Linked DNA regions of Homo sapiens. The protein of the gene in region 3 purifies or fractionates together with the protein of the main gene of each other region. This does not show direct contact. Each region holds a gene or a part of one and is shown on either strand. Other genes may lie near its edges.

Region 1 (4,212 bases), on a different chromosome or scaffold from region 3:
TGCAGGCTAGACAGTTTTGATCCGATGTTATTCTGCTAATCTTTTAAAGGTGTCTTGCGGTGACTCACGCCTGTAATCCCAGCACTTCGGGAGGCTGGGGCGGGTGGATCACCTAAGGTCAGGAGTTCAAGACCAGCCTGGCCAAAATGGAGAAACCCCGTCTCTACTAAAAATATAAAAACTAGCCTTAGCCCGTCGTGGTGGCGGGCGCCTGTGGTTCCAGCTACCCAGGAGGCTGAAGCAGGAGAATCTGAAGCAGAAGGCTGAAGCAGAAGGCAGAGTGGGGACTCCCCCACGCTTTGGCTTTCAGAACAAGGGTTCGAATTCTGGGGCTATTACTTTCTGACCGTGTGGTTTTCTGCAAGCATCTTAACCCGGGCCTCAGTTTCCTCATCTGTAAATGGGAACAGGAATTCCTACCTCTTATGGTTGTACTGGGCGTTATGTGAGCCCAAGGAGCCCTGACCTGCGGTGAGAGGCTGGAGGCCGAAGGGCAAGGTTCGAGGGGCTCTGGGTGCCTGGGACAACCTCTGGGCAACAGGGAGAGGCGGCTGCGGGGCCAAGTCCCTCCTAAGCGGCCACGCGAGAGGCCCTGAGTCGAGAAGGGTTACGGCGCTTCCCAGAGCCCACCCCGCCCAACGTGTCACAAATAAAGCTGGCCTTTCTCCGATTCCCTGATTGCAGCCATTCAGGGAGCAGCCCCTTGCCCACGCATCCATTAGTCGAGGCGGTGGCTGCGTGTGCAGTGCTACAGGGTTCAGCGCCTGCCTCGGCTCCGGAATCAGGCTGTTTCCTTCTAGACCTCCCATGGGGGATTCAAGCCGGCGTCCGGGTCAAAGAACAGGGACAAAGTCCTCCTGCCACGGGGGACCATCTGCAGGCAAAGTGAAGAATGAGGAGCTTCGGCAAAATGCCGACTAAGGCCTCCTTAGGTTTTGCCCCACTCCAAGATGGAAGGCCTGAGGCTTCACACTGCCCCCGAAGTTCCTTTCCCATTGGCTATCTGGGAATTGAGTTTTCCAATAATGCGGACGCTGATTGGTCAATCCAGGACGGTTGCTCAAGCCATTGGCGCAGCCGCCATTGGAGGGCGGCTCTCAAAAGTTTTCAGACACAAATTAGGTTCGAGGGAGGAAACGGAGAGGAAAGGGAAAACTTGAGACGGAGGCGGGACTAAGGAAACGGCAGCTTGCATTGGTTTATTAGAGGCCAAGGGGCGGCTCTTGAACGTTCCTTCCTCTTGATTAGTCCTATTTAGGAAAAGAGGGCGGGTACTGAGGAAAAGCGGCAGAAGCGCCTGCTTCCATTGGTCAGTCCTGGCAGGAGGCGGAGCACCCGCGGCAGCTGATTGGTGCGGGAGGCAAGGTGGGCGGGGCTCTGAGCCGGAGGTTTTGTTGTGAGGGTCGGTTGTCAAGCAGCGGCCAATCAAGGCAGGGGATGGAGGCAAGTGGGGGTCGCGCCTGGAGCGGAGCCTCGGCCTCCGGAGCCGCAGCTGCAGGTGGAGTGGGCAAGGGGACGAGGTGGCGAGGGGACGGTGGGCCCTGGGCTGGGCCGAGCCAGGCGGGGCTGGCTGGGCTTGCGGGCAGAGAGCTCTGAGCGTGGGGAGGCTAGAGCCCGTACTCCGCAAGCAGAGGGTTGGGAGGATCAGCCGTGGCCGAGGGACCTGCCCCCGCCCCCGGACGAGAGGGGTCGGGGTGGAGGCCGGAGGGGGCAAAACCAGGGAGGCCGGAAGCAGAGCTGGGGGTCTGCAGAAGGACAGGTAATGAATAGGGAGAAGAGAAGTAGGAGAATGAATGAATGGGAGACCCCGCGAGCATATGGGAAAGGGCAGTAACGGGAGTCTGGCGAGGCAGGGGCCACGTGAGGGATATCGGGAGACAGGATGTGCATAAGTGGGAGACTCAGGGGGCAGGGAGAAAAGGGGGTGTGAACGGAGGACTAGAGAGGCAGACCCGGGGACCCAGGAGAAAGGGGACGGAGGGGAGCGGGCTCATGGGAAAGAGGTGAAGTGGCTGTGGGAAGGAGGTGGGAGGCTCCATGAGGAGGCCTTTTAGAGTTGAAGAGTCATAGCCACTTACGCCCAGACTGGAGGCCTAGTTCCTAGCTCTGTCCTTGGGAATCGCAGGGAGCAGGAGCGGTTCCCTTGCCAGGAGCTGGGGAATTGGACCATCAGGGTCGTCTTCGAGATTCTTTCCAAGGAGGACTTCAGTGGCCGTCTCTGGGATGCCTTTCCTAGGCCCCTAAGCTTAGCTTCTGACTCCGCTCTCCCACATCCCACACGTCAGACAAAAACAACGACTCGCAGGAAATCTATGTGAATTGCAGACACGTGGTCTTCTCCGCCCCACTGCGGCTGCTGCACTTTAGGCAGCCAGCATCCCGGAACAGAGCTGCAGCTCATTATCCTGGCCTCTGGGAGGAGTTTCTTTTTCCTTACGTTCCAAATCACCCTACCTGAGGTGCCCCCTCTGCAGATTCCCAAACCTAATTTGCAGTGCAGCTTCTGACTCTGGTGGCTTTGGTGGGTGTCAGTCTTTATCAAGTGGTCTTGGTGATCCAGGGAGCAACAGCTCTTACCAAGCATTTTCTAACATGACGTCACCTCTTGTTTGTATTGCAGCCCTGTATTGAGCTGAGATGGCTCGAGCCTAACATTCCATGATCCAGGATCGTGACAGATGTGCACAGGCTGCTGCTGTTGCTGCTGTGGGTAATTTGGAACCACGAGGCACCCCAGGGCCAGAAGACGAGGCATTCTGTCTGCCTGGATGTGTGGGAACTCTCTGCCAACTTGATTGGTGGATCTGGGGGGGGATCCACCCCCACCCCACGAGGAAAGCACAGTTTATTTTGTGGGTGGGGCTTCAGGTGCCAGCCAGCTGAAGGATGGCCACCCCTGTGGTCACCAAGACAGCCTGGAAGTTGCGTGAGTGGTTTTCATTTTTCTTTATCACCCCATTTATTCTGTTAGCGGCTTGTTGCTGGGAGGCCTGAACCCACAGCTTTGTTTCCTGTTCTTGGCACAGGAGGAGACTCCTAGACTTGGGAGTAAGATAGACCATTATGTAAATCATGACTGTGGCACTTCTTAGCTGGGTGACACTGGGCAGGTGACTTAACCTCTCTGAGGCTCAGTTTTCTTATATGTACAATGAGATGACGCCTGCATTCTATGGTTGCTGTGAAATTCAAGTGACAGGATGAACCCATCCTAAAGCACTTAGCACAGCATTTCCAGTTAGGCTGACAGTGGGGTGAGAAATCCTGAAAGATGTTCACAGCATTCTCAGACATCTCACAAGTCAAACTTCCCCAGTCAGATAAAAGCATCTTGGGCCTGGGATGGGGGAAGGAGTGGGAGCGAGGAGGGGCGGGCAGAGGGATGCAGACAGGGCTCGGATTGTAACTGATGGGCACTGTCCACTCCCACCATTGCCCTATACAAGTGGATCTGGACTCTTTCATCTGAAGACTTCATACTTTAAGAATTATTGAGGACCCCAGAGTGCTTTTGTTTGTTGGAGTTATATATCTGTCAGTATTTACCACGTTAGAAGTTAATACTGAGACATTTTCAAACAAGAGTATATAATCAAATAGGCCTCTAGTGATGTTCTGGGAAACTCCACCATATGCTTGAGAGCAAATGAGAGTGCAAAAGGCAGATGCCATCTTAGTGTTATTGTGAAAATCCTTTTGTCTTCTCAGACCCCCCGAAAGGATCTTGAGGATCCCAAGCATCCCCAGATCATATTTTGAGAATTCCCCTACACATTGGCACCTTGGTGGGCCCTGCCCCACCTATTGTAACTGGTTGGCATAGCTTTTGTGTGCTCCACCTGGTCACTGTCTGCTGCCAGCTGTCCCTGGGCTGGTTTTCAGGAGCTGGGACAAGACTCCACACTTTTTTTTTTTTTTGAGACAGAGTCTCACTGTCACCCAGGCTGGAGTACAGTGGTGCAATCTCAGCTCACTGCAACCTCTGCTTCCCGGGTTCATGCGATTCTCGTGCCTCAGCCTCCCGAGTAGCTGGGATCACAGGCACCCGCCACCACACCCGGCTAATTTTTGTATTTTTAGTAGAGACGGGGTTTCACCATGTTGGCCAGACTCGTCTCGAACCCCTGACCTCAGGTGATCCACGTGCCTCAGCCTCCCAAAGTGCTGGGATGACAGGCATGAGCCACCATGCCTGGCCAAGACTCCACACTT
Region 2 (3,500 bases), on a different chromosome or scaffold from region 3:
AAAAAATGTTTTGGTGTGGGGAGGGATTTCACTATGTTGCCCAGGCTGGTCTCAAACTCCTGGCCTCAAGTGATTCTCCTGCCTCAGCCTCCCAAAATGCTGGGCTTACAGGCATAAGCTACCATGCCTGGCCCGGGGAGTTAAAATTTTTGAGAGTAGTCAGGGAAGGCCTCCTGGGAAGGTGATTTTTGAATAAAGATCTGAAGGAGGTGAGGGTGTGCTGTGCAAGCATCTGGAGGAAAAATGTAGTCAGATGATGTCACTATCCTGTGTAAAACCCTCCTATAACTGTTAATTGCACTAAGAATAAAATCCAAATTTCCCAACTGTGCTTTCTGCCTATCTTTTCCTCTTCTGTCACTTTGCTGCAGCCACACCGGCCGCTTTTCTGTTACTTAAAGTATACCAAGCTCTATACTGAGGTGGTTCTTTTCTTTGCCTGAAACATCTTTCTACCTGTTCTTTGCAAAGCTGACACCTCATTCTTCAGGCCTCAGGTTATCACCTGAGAAAAACCTTTTCTAACCATCCTATCTGAAGTAACTCCTTTTATGGTACCATGTTTTAATGACTATAGCACTTACCAGAAGAATTTTTTTTTTCTTTAAACTTGTTTTTGGCTTACCTCCTTCACTAGAAGTATGTACACTAGAAGTAGGGTTCTGAGAGCAGGGACTTTATTCACTTCTCTTTTCCCATGCCCAGTAAGAATGAGAGGTCACCGTTTAGGAGAGTTAGAGGTATGGGCTTATATCTCTAAGAAAATGATAATTTTTAAAAAGTGCTTTATTTTTGGTATAGTGTCTTACCATAACCATTTCTCACCTTGTTGAACCCCAACTTTGCAGGGTTGTCTTTTGTTTTTGAGACAAGGTCCTGCTCATTGCCCAGGCTGAAGTGCTGTGGTGCAGTCATGGCTCACTGCAGCCCTGACCTCCCAAGCTTAAGCTATCCTCCCACCTCAGCCACCTGAGTAGTTGGGACCACACCTGGCTAATTTTAAACTTTTTTTTATAGAGATGGAGTCTGTGTTGCCCAGACTGGTCTCACATTCTTGCCTGGGCCTATACACCTCAGCCTCCCAAAGTGTTGGGTATACAGGCATGAGCCACCATGCCTGGCTAACTTTGTAACTAGGGAGGAGAGTTTTTGGATGTAGGGATGTCTTGACCCTATTGACTAACCATATTATCCTTTACTTTTGTAGAGACGCTCTCCTGGTCTGTGTTCTGACTCTTTGGAAAAGAGCTTAAGGATCACTGTTGGCAATGACCACTTCTGTGTTAGCACACCAGAACGGCGACGGCTTAGTGATCGGCTGGGGTCACCAGTGGATAATCTGGAAGACATGGACAGGTAGGCATCACCTAAGGCAGGGCCTACTATACTAGTACTTGAAGGCAGAAATGTTGCTGTTTTCCGAATGATATATTTGAAAGGATGGTGCCAGCTCTAAAGTTATTTCCTATGCCACATGTCCAGTACAAAATAAAACGCTGGGATAGAATTTCTAAGTGGGAGGAGTATAATGATGTGTAGACTCTGTTGTTGAATAAATTGTATAGAAAAAAAGACTTTAAAAAGGTCATCTGAGTCTGACTAGAAAGAAGAGGCTGAGGGGACATAATCAGAGTCCCCCAAATGAAGAACAGTTGAGATGGTATAGATTCTAAAACAGTGAAACTATGAGCAGTCCCTTCTCCAAAGAAAAGTTCTGGACAAAATGGGAAGTCTTTTTAAAATGGTGTTATTTTTTAGTTTATCCAGGCTGAAACAGATTCAGAAAGGGTTAGGTAAGTTCATGTCTAATATATGTGTGTATGTGAAGTAGATAAAGTATTAATAGAAAGCTAGAGACCTTCAAAAATGTTTAAGTTCAGTTATTATTTTACAACTATTGAGTGCTGAGGAAGGGTAGATACACTCAAGAGAGTTGGATATAGACCTCAGGTACTAGGAACTTAACCATATATAGATTGTAAATAATCACATTAGGTGTTTTTCACCTCACAAAAGTCAAAGTATGGATGGGAGTTCAGGAAAGCACTCTTTCTCAGAGCTGAGACCATGACTGTTATGGTCTCTGCCCAGCACATTGGGAGTTTTGACAAATGATTAGCAGTAGCAATAAATCAATGTAATGTAATTTCAAACTGAGACTGTCGCTTGCCGTGTTGCACAGAGCATAGCTAGGCGGGTGGGGGAGAGCTGGGCAGGAAGTCTGAGGACCAGTTTTGCCGTTGGTAATACCTAAAAGTTCCATTGGCTGTGGATGCAGTGAAGCAAGGCAGAACAGTCTTTTTTTTTTTTTTTTTTCAGGCTTAATTCACTTTATATTTCTTGTATAAAAACCCTATGTTGTAGCCACAGCTGGAGCCTACGTCCTCTGCACAGAGACTCTGGTGTGTGTCTTGATGAGGTGGTCAGTGAATTCCTGATAGGGAGACTTGGTGAATCCTGTCTCCTTCCAGAGGTCGGGGGTCAGGTAGCTGTAGGTCTTAGAGATGGCATCAAAGGTGGCCTTGGCGAAGTTGCCCAGGGTGGCAGTGCAGCCCCTGGCTGAGGTGTAGCAGTCATCAATACCAGCCATCATGAGCAGCTTCTTGGGCACGGGCTGAGACGATGCCAGTGCCCTTGGGCGCAGGGATGAGGTGCACCAGCACAGAGCCGCAGTAGCCTGTCACCTTGCAAGGAACGGTGTGGGGCTTGTGGATCTTGTTCCCCCAGTAGCCTCTGTGCACAGGGAGAATGGAGAGCTTGGCCAGGATGATGGCCCCGCAGGTGGCAGTGGCCACCTCCTTGGAGCACTTAACACCCAGACCGACGTGGCCATTGTAGTCCCCGATGGCAACAAACGCCTTGAACCTTTTCAACTGGCCAGTGTGGGTCTGCTTCTGCACTGGCATAATCTTCAACACCTCATCCTTGAGAGAGGCCCCCAGGAAAAAGTCAGTGATCTCAGATTCCTTGATGGGCAGGAAGAAGAGGTAGTTCTCCAGGGACTTGATCTTTATGTCCTTAACCAAGCAGCCCAGCTTGGTGACAGGCATCCACTCCTTATCCTTGGCCTTGCCTCCACGAGCTCCGTGGCCTCAGCCCTGTCCACAGCTGCAACCCCAGCCCCTCCATGGAAGCCACCACGGTTTCCCATCCCAGGGCCCCCGGGGCCTCTGCCCCCGCCCCACCCCCTCCACCGACATCATCTGCCATTTGGTGTTTTCTCAGAGAAGAAGCAAGGCAAAATAGTCTTATGTCATATAACATTGAAGCTTCTAAAGGGCTTCAAGATATGTGACTGTATCACTTAATTGAGGCAATAGCCCTTGCTCTTCTGGCTGCTTCTGTTTGGGGAAATTATTGAGTAGGTAGTCTGGGTAGGTGGTACATAGTGTGATTGTCTTCATTCTTTGCTGAGGTTTTGAGTTAGCTTCAGCAGTTCTTCTTAGGCCTAGGATGTCACTTCCCCTTTGCATAAACTTTGTTATGCACATGTGCTTCAG
Region 3 (3,671 bases):
GCAATTCTCCTGCCTCAGCCTCCTGAGTACCTGGGATTACAGGCGCGCACCCCTGTGGCCAGCTAATTTTTTTGTATTTTTAGTAGAGATGGGGTTTCATCGTGTTGGCCAATTTGGTCTCAAACTCCTGACCTTCAAGTGATCTGCCCATCTCGGCCTCACAAGTGAATCAGTTTTTTAAATTTATTGAGATGTGCTTTTTGGCCGAGCATGTGGTCTGTCTTGGAGTATGTTATATGTGCTGTTGAGAAGAATATATATTCTGTGGTTGATGAGTGGAGTGTTCTTTAGATGTGTATTAGGTCCAATTGGTCAAATGTTGAATTTACACCCAGAATTTGTTTTTTAATTTTCTGCCTCAGTGATCTGTCTAATGCTGTCAATGGGATTTGACATCTCCCAACATTATTGCTATCTCTATAGATCTCTAAGAGCTTGTTTTATGAAACTGGATGCTTCAATGTTGGGTGTGTGTATATTTAGGATAGTTAAGTCTTCTCATTGAATTGAACCCTTTATCATTATGTAATTACCTTCTTTGTCCTTTTGTACTGTTGTTGGTTTTTTTATATATAATTTTTTCTTGAATAGAAATGGGGTCTCACTGTGTTGCTGTGAACCCCAAATATCTGAGAGAGATCTCAGTCAATTTAGGAAGTTTATTTTGCCAACATTAAGGGCATGTGCCTGTGACACAGCCTCAGGAGGTCCTGGCAACATATGCCCAAAGTGGTTGGGGCACAACTTGGTTTTATACGTTTTATACATGAGACATCAATCAACATATATAAGATATACATTGGTTCTGTCTGGAAAAGCGGGACAACTCAAAGTGGGGAGAGTATGTCCAGGTCATAGGTAGGTAGGAGACAAATGGTTGCCTTTTTTTTTTTTTTTGAGTTTCTGATTAGCCTTTCCAAAGGAGGCACTCAGATATGCACTTATCCCAGTGAGCAGAGGGATGACTTTGAGTTTGAGTTCTGTCTGTCCTTCGTCCACAGGGAAATTCCTTGTGAGGGAGGTACGTAACTTTTTCTAATCTTAGTAGCTATTTTTTAGGAATAGAATAGGAGGCAGGGTTGCGCTAAGCAGTTCCCAGCTTGACTTTTCCCTTTGGCTTAGTGATTGTGGGGGTCCCAAGATTTATTTTCCTTTCACATTGCCCTGGCTGGTCTTGAACTCCTGAGCTCAAGCGATCCTCCCCCCTTGTAAGAGTTAAAGAAAGAGGAAAGAAACACAAAAGATGGGTTGGCAGTTAAAGACAGGTTTACTTTAGATAAAACCTGAGAAGGGTTTCTGGCTGATTTCGATCAGGAGCACTTTCTCTTACAGGCTAAGTACATGAGTATATATTGGTTTTAGGGTGAGGGGGCTTATCACAAGCTTGGAGTGTTTATGTGTGGGGGAGAAGTTTATGGTGAGGTTGGAATGTCTCTGGGTGAAGGGGGGATTATCTTGGGGCTGACGTCTTTCTAGAAGGAAGGGAGTTATCTCGGGGCTGGCATCTTCCCAGCCAGAGCAGGGCAGCTAGCATGTCTCTGGTCGCAGAGGAGTTTGGCATGTTCCTGGTCGGAGATGCTTTTTTTGTTTATGATCATGCTGATCTTAGCCATTTAGGCTGATGCGCTTTGGATTTAGGAAGTTTTTGATTAAGGTGAATTGGAAAATAACAGTGCTTGTGCAAGATGGTGATACTCCTGCTCTGTCATACTTCGGCCTCTCAAAGCTCTGGGCTTATAGGCGTGAGCCACTGTGCCTGGCTCTGTTGTCTGATTTAAAGTCTGTTTTATCTGATATAAGAATATTGACCCCTGGTTGGGCGTGGTGGCTCACGCCTGTAATCCCAGCACTTTGGGAGGCCGAGGTGGGTGGATCACGAGGTCAAGAGATCAAGACCATCCTGGCCAACATGGTGAAACCCCGTCTCTATCTGCTAAAAATACAAAAATCAGCTGGGCGTGGTAGTGCATGCCTGTAGTCCCAGCTACTCGGGAGGCTGAGGCAGGAGAATTGCTTGAACCCAGGAGGCAGAGGTTGCAGTAAGCCGAGATCGCACCATTGCACTCCAGCCTGGCGACACGGCGAGACTCAGTCTCAAAAATAAAATAAAATAAAATAAAAAACTAGTGACCCCTGACCTTTTTTGTTTTCCATTTGGTTGATAAATCTTTTTTCAACCCTTTACTTTGAGCCTATGGGTGTTGTTACATGTGAGACGTGTCTCTTGAAGGCAGCAGATGGATGGGTCTTTTTTCTTTCTTTTTTTTTTTTTAATCCAAATTGCAGCTGTGTGCCTTTTAGGCAGGATGTTTCGTAAAAGGCGAAAGATTTGTATGATCTGAAGAGACCCTTTACATTCAAGGTTAATATTGATATGTGAGGTTTTGATCCTATTATTAAGTTGGTAGATGGTTGCTTTGCAGTTTCTATTGTATGATTGTATTATGGGGTCTTTGGGCTATGTACTTCAGTGTGTTTTTGTGGTATCAGTGTTGTTCTTTCATTTCCATGTTTAAAAGTCCCTTAAGGATCTCTGCTAAGACTGGTCTAGTGGTAACAAATTGTCTTATCGCTTGCTTGTCTGTAAAATATTTTATTTCTCCTTCGTTTGTGAAGCTTAGTTTGGTGGAATATGAAATTCTTGGTTGTAGTGTCCTCTCTTTAAGAATGCTGAAAATAGACCCCCAATCTCTCTTGCCTTGTAAGGTTTCTGCTGAGAAGTCCACTGTTCCTTTTGTATGTGATCTGACGTTTTTCTCTAGCTGCCTGTAAGATTTTTTCTTTAGTGTTAACCTTCAACAGTCTGGTGACTGTATGCCATGGTGATATTCACGTTCACAGAGAGTTCTCTGTATTGCTTCTATCTGGATGTCTTCCTCTCTGGCAAGATTAGGGAAATTTTCTTAAATTATGTCCTCAAATATGTTTTCCAGGTCATTTACTTTTTCTCCTTCTCTCTCAGGAATACCAATAATTCATAGATTTGGTTGCTTTACATTATCAAATATTTCTCAAAGCCTTTTTCATTAAAAATTTTTTATTTTTATTTTTATCTGACTGGGTTAGTTTGAAAGACTGATCTTCAAGCTCCAAAATTCTTCCTTCTGCTTGGCCTAGTCTATTAATAAAACTTGCAGTTATATTTTGAAATTCCTTAAGTGAGTTTTTCAATTCCAGAAGCTCTGATTGATTCCTTTTTAAGATGTTTATCTTAAGATGCCTTCATTTCCTGAATTGCTTTAGAAGTTTCTTTGTGTTTATTTTCAACCTTGTCTGGATCTTGTTGAGCTTCCTTGCAATCCTTGCTTTGAATTCTTTATCTGTCATTTCTGAGTTTCCATTTGGGTCAGGAACCATTGCGGGAACACGACTGTGATCCTTCAGTGGTGTCACTATATTTAGATTTTTCACAAATCCAAAATTCTTGGGGTAGTTCCTTTTCATCTGGAGATGTTCACACTTCTAATTTTTGTAATTATTTTCATGCAGGTGGGATTTTTTTCTTTTTCTTTCTTTCACTATAATATTATTGTTTTTCCCTTTCACATTTATGATTTTAAATATCAACTCAGAAACCTGTTGAAAGAGACCCTTTTTCTCTGATTGTAGGCATTATTTATCATGCAGTGGTTATGAAGAAAGAGATGTAATAGAGAGTATAGTCAATATTA
Region 4 (3,500 bases), on a different chromosome or scaffold from region 3:
GCAGGCTGCTAGAAAAATCCAGGTGAGAGGCCAGGCGCGGTGGCTCACGCCTGTAATCCCAGCACTTTGGGAGGCCAAGGCAGGACGATCACGAGGTCAGGAGATCGAGACCATCCTGGCTAACATGGTGAAACCCCATCTCTACTAAAAATACAAAAAAATTAGCCAGGCATGGGGCAGGTGCCTGTTCTCCTGGCTACTTGGGAGGCTGAGGCAGGAGAATGGCATGAACCGGGGAGGCGGAGCTTGCAGTGAAGCAAGATCATGCCACTGCACTCCAGCCTGGGCGACAGAGTGAGACTCCGTCTCAAAAAAAAAAAAAAAAAAGAAAAGAAAAAAGAAAAATCCTGGTGAGAGACCGCGGTGCGCGGTGGACTGGACGTAGAGACCAATGGTGTTGGAGGGGTGTTCACTGACAACTTTGACATTGATCAGTGTTACATTTAGAGAGCCACTCACTTTGAAGATCCCTTCCTCAAGGTGGGTGTAACAGTCTACCTGGGGTAAGGAAACCCCTCAGAGGGAGTGGTATCAGTACTGAATTCAGTTTAGCAAACCTGCTTTAGAACCCTGTGCCTGTTCAGGGGTAGGTATAAAACATGCCAGTCCTCAAGGACTTCCTGTGGGGAGACATGGGGCACATTATTCCCATTTCACTGATGCAGGCCTCTGTGGCATTGTGAGGCGTTTGCCAGGCAGCAGTGGCAAAGCAGGAATTTGAACTCCCTTCCAACTTGCAACTAGTGAATATTTGGGTTCAGGTTAAGCCGTAGAGAAGCAACAGAGGAAGGTGGGTTTCAGTTGGGTGTGGAAGGGATAAATTGAAGGAGCCTTCCCGGAGGAGGCAGATAGAAGGGAGGGAGCCAGCCAGCCGGGCGTGGTGGCTCACGCCTGTAATCCCAGCACTTTGAGAGGCCGAGGCGGATGGATCACGAGATCAGGAGATCGAGACCATCCTGGCTAACACGGTGAAACCCCGTGTCTACTAAAAATACGAAAACAAAAAATTAGCCGGGCGTGGTGGCGGGTGCCTGTAGTCCCAGCTACCTGGGAGGCTGAGGCAGGAGAATGGCGTGAACTGGCGAGGCGGAGCTTACAGTGAGCCGAGATAGTGCCACTGCACTCCAGCCTGGGCGAGAGAGCGAGACTCTGTCTCAAAAAAAAAAAAAAAAAGAAGGGAGGGAGGGAATCAGCCAGAGATAGTCCAGGGCAAACCCTGGCCCTGCCTGCTCCTGGCTGTGGCCTTGGGCATGGTTATGGTTTTGAGACTCGACTTCCCTATCTGTAAAAAGGGCTCATGATAGGATACTCCCATTCTCAAAAGGTTCTTATGTGAGTTTACTGAAGCAGTGTATGGACAGTGCTAGGCCCCGTGTCTATGCTCTGTAAGGGGTGGTATGATTATTATCACTATAGCCTGTCATCAGGATAAGTTCCAGGTGGGTGGTGCTTTGCTCAACCTGGTGTGTGCCTGTGTGTGTTGGGGGGAGAGAGGGAGTGACCCACAGGTGATACTTGAGTCTTAAAGGATGAGTAGGAGGGAGGGCTGGGACATTCCAGGCAGAAGCAACAGCACTGGCAAAGGCATAGATCGCCTGGAGAACTGCATGCCAACTGATATACCCAGAATTCAGGATGTGCTGAATGAATAAAAGTTAGACCATGGGCAGCAAAAATTCCTTTTATACCCCAGACACTCCCTGAATTTCTAAACCTGAAGGCTTTGGCAGGTTTGGGACAGAGAGGAGGGCAGGAGCATCCCTGTCCAGGAGTTCACTCTCCTTCTTCCACTCACCCATCCAGATTATAGGAGTGTGAACCTAGATAAGCCATGTCCCCCCGGGACCTCAGTTTCTTCCTCTGTAAAATGGGAGGACTGGGGAGAATGTAGGTAAAGCACATAGTGCATCAGAGCTGCGCTGTTATGCCAGAATCTGGGCTAAGCTCTTTTGTTCCTTTTTTTTTTTTTTTTTTTTTTTGAGACGGAGTTTTGCTCTTATTGCCCATGCTGGAGTGCAATGGCAGGATCTCGGCTTACTGCAGCCTCCACCTCCTGGGTTCAAGTGATTCTCCTATCTCAGCCTCCCGAGTAGCTGGGATTACAGGCATGTGCCACCACGCCTGGCTAATTTTGTTATTTTTATTAGAGACAGGGTTTCTCCATGTTGGTCAGGCTGGTCTCGAACTCTCGACCTCATGTGATCCACCCACCTCGGCCTCCCAAAGTGCTGGGATTACAGGCACCCGGCCTTTTTTTTTTTTTTTTTTTTTAATATTTTACAACAAACCCAGGTGGTGCCTGTTTTTGAGACCCTCGACTTTACAGTTCATGAAACTGAGGCTTCAAGAGGTTATTGATGTGCTGCGAGGTCACGCAGCGGGAAAGTGGAAGAGCTGGGATTTGAACCCAAAGCTGTCTGCCTCAAAGCCATGCCCTTCCCACTTGCATGGCTCCCAACACAAGGAGGGGTGCTTCTGCCTAGTCTCACTACTCAAACTGCTGCCATTTAAGAAGAAGCTAAGGCCAAGCACAGTGGCTCCTGTCTGTAATCCCAGCGCTTTGGGAGGCTGAGATGGGAGTATTGCTTGAGCCCAGGAGTTTGAGACCAGCCTGGGCAACATAGCGAGACTGTCTCTGAAAAAACAATTTAAGACCGGGTGAGGTGGCTCACGCCTGTAATCTCAGCACTTTGGGAGGCTGAGGTGGGCGGATCACCTGAGGTCAGGAGTTCGAGAGCAGCCTGGCCAACATGGTGAAACCCCGTCTCTACTAAAAATACAAAAATCAGCCAGGCGTGGTGGTGGGGCACCTGTAATCCCAGCTACTCGGGAGGCTGAGGCAGGAGAATCCCTTGAACCCCGGAGGTGGAGGGTGTGGTGACCTGAGATCATGCCATTGCAATCCAGCCTGGGTGACAGAGCAAGACTCTGTCTCTTAAAAAAAAAAAAAAAAAGGTTAAAAATTAGTCTGGCGGTCAGGCACAGTGGCTCACACCTGTAATTCCAGCACTTTCGGAGGCAGAGGCAGGTGAATCACCTGAGGTCAGGAGTTCAAGATTAGCCTAGCCAACATGGAAAAACCCTCTCTCTACTGAAAATACAAAACAAAACAAAAAAATAGCCAGGTATGGTGGCACATGCCTGTAATCCCAGCTACTTGGGAGGCTGAGGCAGCAGACTGCTTGAACCTGGGAGGTGGAGGTTGCCCTGAGCCGAGATTGTGCCACTGCACTCCAGCCTGAACGATAGAACAAAACTTCGTATCAAAAAAAAAAAAAAAAAAGAAAAGAAAAGAAAAAAAATTAGCCTGGCAGTGTGTCAGGCTGTGTCCCATCTAATTCAGAGGCTGAGACAGGAGCATTGCTTGAGCTCAGGAGTTCGATGCTGCAGTGAGCTTTGATTGCACCACTGCACTTTAGCCTGAGACAGAGTGAGTCCTTGTCTCAAATAAATAAATACATAAATACATAAAAATTTAAAAAATTAAAATTAAAAATAAA

Evidence for each region. Proteins that work in one complex are often made in the same cells at the same time.
Region 1: the proteins of ASB3 (region 3) and KATNB1 purify together in Homo sapiens (affinity purification with mass spectrometry, with the first as the bait; 2 studies listed by BioGRID). This does not show direct contact.
Region 2: the proteins of ASB3 (region 3) and ZNF318 purify together in Homo sapiens (affinity purification with mass spectrometry, with the first as the bait; 2 studies listed by BioGRID). This does not show direct contact.
Region 4: the proteins of ASB3 (region 3) and KIAA1671 purify together in Homo sapiens (affinity purification with mass spectrometry, with the first as the bait; 2 studies listed by BioGRID). This does not show direct contact.

What each region holds. Positions count from the first base shown.
Region 1 is NC_000016.10:57,734,358-57,738,569, forward strand, and holds the start of KATNB1 (katanin p80 WD40 repeat-containing subunit B1), read left to right. Parts: upstream 1-1,412; 5' UTR 1,413-1,498; intron 1,499-2,078; exon of another isoform or gene 2,079-2,287; intron 2,288-2,620; 5' UTR 2,621-2,886; coding exon 2,887-2,926; intron 2,927-4,212.
Region 2 is NC_000006.12:43,363,148-43,366,647, reverse strand, and holds part of ZNF318 (zinc finger protein 318), read left to right. Parts: intron 1-1,207; coding exon 1,208-1,356; intron 1,357-2,428; exon of another isoform or gene 2,429-3,233; intron 3,234-3,500.
Region 3 is NC_000002.12:53,717,365-53,721,035, reverse strand, and holds part of ASB3 (ankyrin repeat and SOCS box protein 3), read left to right. Parts: intron 1-3,671. UniProt on the Homo sapiens protein: Probable substrate-recognition component of a SCF-like ECS (Elongin-Cullin-SOCS-box protein) E3 ubiquitin-protein ligase complex which mediates the ubiquitination and subsequent proteasomal degradation of target proteins. Recognizes TNFRSF1B.
Region 4 is NC_000022.11:24,955,716-24,959,215, forward strand, and holds part of KIAA1671 (uncharacterized protein KIAA1671), read left to right. Parts: intron 1-3,500.